Linked DNA regions of Homo sapiens. Changing the gene in region 1 together with any one later gene gives a genetic interaction. Each region holds a gene or a part of one and is shown on either strand. Other genes may lie near its edges. The genes, in order: MAP3K1 and FGFR2.

Evidence for each region.
Region 2: changes in MAP3K1 (region 1) and FGFR2 together harm fitness more than expected from each alone (negative genetic interaction), as found in Homo sapiens cells (one large-scale study listed by BioGRID).

What each region holds. Positions count from the first base shown.
Region 1 is NC_000005.10:56,818,423-56,822,246, forward strand, and holds part of MAP3K1 (mitogen-activated protein kinase kinase kinase 1), read left to right. Parts: intron 1-1,810; exon of another isoform or gene 1,811-2,323; coding exon of another isoform or gene 2,324-2,394; intron 2,395-3,824. UniProt on the Homo sapiens protein: Component of a protein kinase signal transduction cascade. Activates the ERK and JNK kinase pathways by phosphorylation of MAP2K1 and MAP2K4. May phosphorylate the MAPK8/JNK1 kinase.
Region 2 is NC_000010.11:121,486,662-121,490,485, forward strand, and holds part of FGFR2 (fibroblast growth factor receptor 2 isoform 1 precursor), read right to left. Parts: intron 1,453-3,824; coding exon 1,330-1,452; intron 764-1,329; coding exon 693-763; intron 1-692. UniProt on the Homo sapiens protein: Tyrosine-protein kinase that acts as a cell-surface receptor for fibroblast growth factors and plays an essential role in the regulation of cell proliferation, differentiation, migration and apoptosis, and in the regulation of embryonic development.

The DNA.
Region 1 (3,824 bases):
TATTTGAGAGTTCTGTGATCTTTTTTTTAATTTTAGAATTTCCTTCTGATCTTTGAATGTAGAAAATATACTTTGAATTAGAATTTATATAAATAAATAATACTCGTATTTAAATAGAAGATTTTAAGTTTGTCCCTCTTTTTCAGGGTGATAGCTGAAATCAGTGAAAGTGCCTGTAAGTGGCGCCCAAGGGTTTGGAATTTTTCCTTATATTACAGAATTTAGGGGCTTTTTCTTCCTATTTACTGTCTTTGAAGAAAAATTACAGTGTTACTCTCCATTGAACAGCCTATTGTGAGTTTGGTAGATATAATTACCCCATCCTATTTTTGTAACTTAAAAAACCAAACTATCAATTTGCTGGCCCCGTGAAAGAACAAGATATGCTGTACTTGTTAATGTTAGTTTTTGTTTAAAACTAAAGGTATTTCACAGGCTGCTTTTATATCCTCATATAGCCCTCAGATTTCACTTCCTTTTTAAAGCTATTAGGCTAAAAATATGATTTAGTGACCTTTTACTAAAGAGGAGGTATAAGAGCATTATTACCTAAAAATTACTCTTAAAATATTAAGTGGGTGACTTTATAAAAATAAAGGTAGTCACATAAGTTAGTCTTCCGTGAATTTGTAAGTTTTTAGTTAAGAATGGTGTCAGTTTCATTTTAAATCAGATAAGAAAATTAATGCATTCTTCAAAGATGAACCTTAATATAATTCTGGAAGAGAAATATAAGAGCTAGAATTGTTGCCAACTTTTATTTTCTTTTCATATCTGATTTTGGCAAGAGTGACTGGTTAACCAACATTCCTTAATATACGATTTCCAATGCACTAAAACTCCATTTTGTTAGATACGAAAAACAGGAAGTAGCCCTGTTCATTGATATTCATTTACAACTTCCATAGCACCTCGAGCATAATATGTTGCATATTTTAGAAATGGCCACTGACTTGTCAACTTGCAGATTTCAAAATGTGGGAAGAAAGGAGTGTTTTTTTGCTTTCAACAAGAGCAAAAAAAAAACCAGCTACAGCTTGCCTAGGCTGAGTCGGCTAATCAGTCCTTGACACTGGCTGTGTGCATCCCAAAGGAAGAAATGAGGGGGTGGCAAGGTAGTTAATGGGGAATGGATTACCATGAGGAAAAATATGGGGCATTCAGAAATGCTCTCAGGTAGAAAGCACCTCTTTTGCATTTTGTACTCCAGTCATCTTCTTGGGTTGAGGGCTGTCTGTTACACAGAAGGCGATGGGAAAATGTGTCATGGAAAAGTAGTAGTCTCTAGAGGCTGCTTAGGAACTGCGTGTATATTACACCTCTAATCTTGGAATTCTTTGCTTCTATCAAATATATCAAGTATAGACTTGGTTGTTTTCCTTAGTCCTTGCCTCTTTCTATATCCTAAGTTAAAAGCTAAAGCAACTTAAACATGTAAATGGTAGACTATTAATGTGAGGAAATGTGTAAGATTAGGAGTAACCCAAAGTTGTCTTTAAGAAATTATTTAAGAACATGTTTAATCATGAAAGAAATAATCAGGGCCGGAATTAGTAAATGGTTCATTGCAAAGCATGAGATTAGTCAGATACTCTTTTCAGTTTGCAAAAATATATTAGGATTTTATCTGTGGCTTAAAACATACTCATTGAGCATATAGATATGCCTAGATACCTTTTACATAATCAACTCTTTTGCCTTCTGTGTGTGTGTATGATATCTATTATATGTATTATATATATGTTTATATATAATCTCATTTGATCATCACTGCAGCCCCCTAAGATAGTGTAATTTCTGTTTTCTGTAGGTGCAAACTCATCTGAGATGGTAAAACCTCATGATTACACAACTAGAAGACAGCTAGGATTCAATCCCAAGTCAGACTGACTCCACAGTCCATTTCTTTCCACTACTCTGCTTCTTCCATTTTCTTTTTTCAAATTAATAATCAAATTAATTGATTATTTTTAAGGAGAAATTTGTTTTGCAGGCATTCTAATAGACCATGAGCTAGGTCTCTACCCTGTGCTAAGTTTGCCTGTTAATGTATATAATAGGTATGTTTCTGTAACCTGGCCTTGTATATGTAATACAAGTAAACTGTATTTGGATCACCCTATCATGTCAGCCAAAGAGGGTTAGTCATTAGTGTTGAATGTTTCTTAGATTTATTGATTTGTGCTGTATTAAATCATAAGTGAAAGGAGATAAGCTGAAATTAATATGGTTCATTCATGGTAATCACACAGGAAGAGAAACTTTTACTATTGCTAGACCCTACCCCTTTGTTATTGTTTTAGATTTCATCCATTCAACATTTATGAACTTCTGCAAGGTGGTGGTCTTGAGTGGTGGAGAAAAAGATCATGAGTGCACAAGCTGTTTCTGTCGGTAGGTTGTAGTATGAACATGTTTCACAATACCGTGTTAAGTGCTATAAGAGAGATGGGGATACAGAGGGGATACAACATATTAGTTTCAAACTATTTCTGCCTATTTTCTGATAAGAATATATACAACACTGCATGTTCAGGCATGTTTTTTTTTCTTCCAAGGGAAAATTAAAAAGGAGATACGGGGAGCAAGAAATTCAACATCTGCTACTGCTAGTTCTGAAATTCTGTCTTTATTATTAGTAACAGCAACTCTACTAGTTACGAAAACAACATGGAGAAATATAAAATATTCTTTAGGGCATAAGATGATCAAGAAGATAGCCTTGTCTTTATTTACTCTATGGCATGTCATTGGTGATTGAGTTATGTTTGGTATGGAAGGGAGTTCTGTATTGTTAGTGATTGAGTCCTTTGGAATACCAGGCTGGTTTGATGCAGATGTTAATTTGATCGAGATGTGGAGATGTTGTAGCATACTAAGGGGAATTGTTAAAACTCACCAAGTGTATAATTCTGCAAGTACACATCTGTCACCTGGGAATTACTAAGCCACCAGACCTCTTGAAGCCTGGAGAAAGTGCTTGGAGCCACATGGGACAGCCTACACAGTACTGTAGTTAGTACGTTAACTAAGTTCATCACTTGTAAGCATAATGATGGATAGACATGGAGTGAGAACAGGGTCAGTACTGGGGTGTAGGTGGAAGCTTTGCTCTTGACAGATGTTATCATTACTTTTCTTTTTTTATTTTTAAATTAGAAATGGGTTCTCACTATGTTGCCCAGGCTGGAATCGAACTCCTGGGCTCAGGTGATCTTTCCACATAGCTGGAACTATGGGTGCAAGCCACTGTGTCTGGCTTTACTTTTCTTCATTGCCTAAACAATAATTTAAGTTATATGTTAACACATAATCTTCAAACTGGTCTTATGGTATTCTGAATACTAAACATCAGTTGTTAACAGACCAGGAACTTTATCTGATTCTTTGCACCATCTCCCAGCATCTAGACTAGTGTCTGGCACCCATGAATATTAGGTACCCAGAAATGTTAACATGAATTAATTTTCCAAAAGTGGTTAAATTAGTATATCTGAAGATTAACTTACTGTAGTGAGATTTTAATCATGATCTAGCTTAAGACGAGTTTTGAAGGCAAGAACTGTCTTTTTTTAGGAGTTTTTGTATATCGTTTGGTATTTATTTATTTATTTTTGAGACGGAGTCTTGCTCTGTTGCCCAGGCTGGAGTGCAGTGGCGCAATCTTTGCTCACTGCAGCCTCTGCCTCCTAGGTTCAAGCAATTCTCCTGCCTAGCCTCCCGAGTAGCTTGCTGGGATTACAGGCATGCCCCACTATGCCCAGTTAATTTTTGTATTTTTTTGTAGAGACAGGGTTTCACCATGTTGGCCAGGCTGGTCTTGA
Region 2 (3,824 bases), on another chromosome or scaffold:
GATCTCCTGACCTCGTGATCCACCCGCCTTGCCCTCCCAAAGTGCTGGGATTGATTACAGGTATGAGTCACTGCACACAGCCTTCAACTGAATTTTCAAATCTAAAATATCAGTTGGAGCCTGACCCCACTGGTTTTGTCAGTATATCATAATAGAAATATTCTACTGTGTTTCTAGAATGCTATCAAGGATGCCAAAGCAAGATCAGACCTTTTTGTTGAGGGATAAACATAGAGAGTAGACCCTGTGGAGGTCCCCAGCCTGGACCACATCTCACTCAGCTCCACTCTTTAAGGACAAATCTGGGTTAGAGGGAAATATGACAAACTACTCGTAAGTGGGAAAAGCTCCAGGATTACTCCTTTAATGGAGTGAAGAACATGCCAAGAGCTTGGCGAATTAGATAACCGCTTTGTAGTTGCACATCCATGAATATGTTCAAGGGAAGGACTTCCGCTCTGGCAGGGGGAGGTCAGCAGTTCCACCTTCTGTGCTCTTTGAAGCCAGGCAGATTAGTAACAGAGCATTGGTTATCAGCCTACCATAAAATCTGTCCTTTCTAAGGCCAGCTCCTGCACCTTCTACGAATGTGTGAAATGCAGCAGCCACTAAAGAAGGAAGAAAGGTGAAGTACGTACAGTATTTTTGCAGCTCAAGCCCAGGAAAAAGCCAGAGAAAAGAGAGTTACTCACACATCACTCTGATGAGTGTATACTCTATCAAACAGGGCTTCTGGAGCCATCCACTTGACTGGAAGCCGCCCCTGCAAATGTAGAGGAAAATGCAAAAACTAAATATATTTAAAAGAATTTATCTTAGCAGGCTCAATAGGGCTATGCCCTGTTTAAGAGCTGATATTCTCGGTTTTTACTAGTCAGTCAATAGAGCAGAAATCAGTCCCAATGAGGACCATGAACAATGTGTGAGATGCACAGGTCTGGGCCGTTAATAAAATGCCATCTCCTTGGATTCTATCCTTTATCTCCCTAGCACACAGATGCTCCTTGACCAGTTATTAGGCAAAAATTAAACCAGTAACTTCCAAGCTGTAGTTTTTGCTATGAAAGTTCTTGATGAGAACCATAAGAAAATCCTAGCGGTTGCTGATTATTCTGTATATAAGTGTTTCACATTTACTAAAATTGACATAATAGAGGCTAAATTTGCATATTGAGAGTTTGTGAATAGTAAGTCAAAAGAACGGGAATCGGGGCAGGGGAATGGGTCCCCAGCCATCCCACCCAGCTCTCAACATTGACGGCCTTTCTTCCTGGAACATTCTGAGCCTCACCCCCGCCCCTGCCCACTGTGTTACTGCCATCGACTTACATTGGTGGTCTTTTTGTAATAGTCTATATTGTTGATATCTCTGGCGAGTCCAAAGTCTGCTATTTTCATCACATTGTTTTCTGTTACCAAAACATTTCTGGCTGCTAAATCTCGATGAATACACTGAAATCAAGAAAGAAGCAAGAGAAATAACTAATTTCAAAACACCGCCAGAACAAAAAGGAAATATGTTCATTTCTTAAAATGCAGATAGAAAATATAGCTGATGTTAAAAACCAGTTGCGGTATACTATAAGAAATACAGTGTGGCCGGGTGCGGTGGCTCATGCCTGTAATACCAGCACTTTGGGAGGTCAAGGTGGGCGGATCACTTGAGGTCAGTAGTTCGAGACCAGCCTGGCCAACACGGCAAAATCCCATCTCTGCTAAAACTACAAAAATTAGCCGAGCGTGGTGGTGTGCACCTGTAGTCCCAGCTACTCAGGAGGCTGAGGCACAAGAATCACTTGAACCTGGGAGACAGAGGTTGCAGTGAGCTGAGATCACGCCATTGCACTCCAGCCTGGGTGACAGAGTGAGACTCTGTCTCAAAAAAAAAAAAAAAAAAAGAAAGAAAAGAAAAGAAAACGCAGTGTGGCTCTAAGATTAAGAAGACAGGTCAACTGGGATCATCGGAGAGCCTGGATCACGACATGTATTTGTTTTGGAATTATAAATAAATAGAATGATCATTTTGAAGAGCGAAGGTAGACTAAATAACCATATTCTCTTCTACCTCCAGTTGTCCAGCCACACCAGTGTCTTTCTTTCAGCTGCTTATAGATCTGTATCTGATCATCCTAAAATCTTTTCTCTCAACACTTGCTCTCCTGCCCTTTAAACCTGAATTTTCAGAAGCGTTGGTTAAAATCCAACATTGTGTCTTCTTCATTCCTGGTCACTTCTCAAACATTCTAATCTGTGTTCCACTCTTGCCTCTCCTGAAGCTTATGAAGAACCTCTGAATTGTTAGACGCAAATGACGTCCTCCAACTCCTCAGTTGTTCCTCCTCTGTGGCTTCAGATGCTATTGATTTCTTGCTTGTTTTTTAAAATGGTCCCTCTGTTTAGGTTTTCTTGTTTTTGTTTTTTTTGTTTTAACATGGAGTCTTGTCCTTGTCGCCCAGGCTGGAGTGCAATGGTGCGATCTTGGCTCACCGCAACCTCCGCCTCCTGGGTTCAAGCGATTCTCCTGCCTCAGCCTCCCGAGTAGCTGAGACTACAGGTGCCTGCCACCACACCCGGCTAATATTTTGTATTTTTAGTAGAGACGGGGTTTCACCATGTCGGTCAGGCTGGTCTCGAACTCCTGACCTCAGGTGAGCCATCCGCCTCGGCCTCCCAAAGTGCTAGGATTACAGGTGTAAGCCACCACACCCAGCCCCTCTGTTTAGTTTTATCCCGTCCCCTTCCCTCAGCTGCCTCTCTGTCTCTCCCTGCCCTCTTAGAATCTCTGGCTGGCTCTTCTCTTTTTCTGTCCCTTCAAATAGAGGAATTGTTCCATTAAGTTTATGTATTTCCATATATCCTCAAGGCATTAATTCTAAACACATACAAAATATGCGCAAGTTCGTATCTCCATCATGACCTCCCTCCTGAGACCCATGTTCTCATTTTCAACTGTCTATGGGACACTTCCCCACTGACATTCCCTTGACGTCTCAAATTCAAGGTTTCAACTCCTCCAATGCTTTGTCTCTCTTAATCGGAGAGCTATACACCGGTATTCTTTACACATTCCTCCCAAGTCCTGTTGATTTCAACTCCAAAATGCCTTCCCATGTGTCCACACCATGCCTTTCCCACTGCTAATGCCTTAGTCCAGGCCATCTTCACTGTCTGCCCCTCCCCCTGAGACTTCCACACTGCCCGTCTAGCGGGTCTCTACGCTTCCAAACTTAGCCCTGTTGTACCTCCTCCATGTCCCATGACTAAGGTTCCTGAAATGACTAGTCATGTCCTTTCTTGGTCTCTACCATGGCCAATGCCCGTCTATCCACGTTCTCAGTCCAGTTTCTCCTAACACCTGGCCTCAGCCTGAATGTGCCACATACACTGATTCTAAACACTGAAATATTAAATACTTGCTGCAGAACAGCTAATTTATTGTCTTGACACTAACTCTTGGGTCTCAGAAAGATCTAGCTATTACGACTTTTCCTTCTTTTTTTTTTTTTTTTTTTTTTTTTTGAGACGGAGTTTCACTCTTGTTTCCCAGGCTAGAGTGCAGTGGCACGATCTTGGCTCAATGCAACCTCTGCCTCCCAGGTTCAAGTGATTCTCCTGCCCTCAGCCTCCCAAGTAGCTGGGATTGCAGGTGCCCACCACCACATCAGGCTAATTTTGTATTTTTGGTAGAGATAGGGTTTCACCATGTTGGTCAGGCTGGTCTCAAACTCCTGACCTCAAGTGATCCACCCGCCTCGGCCTCCCAAAGTACTGGGATTATAGGCGTGAGCCACCACGCCCGGCCTATGATTTTTCCTTTCTACAAA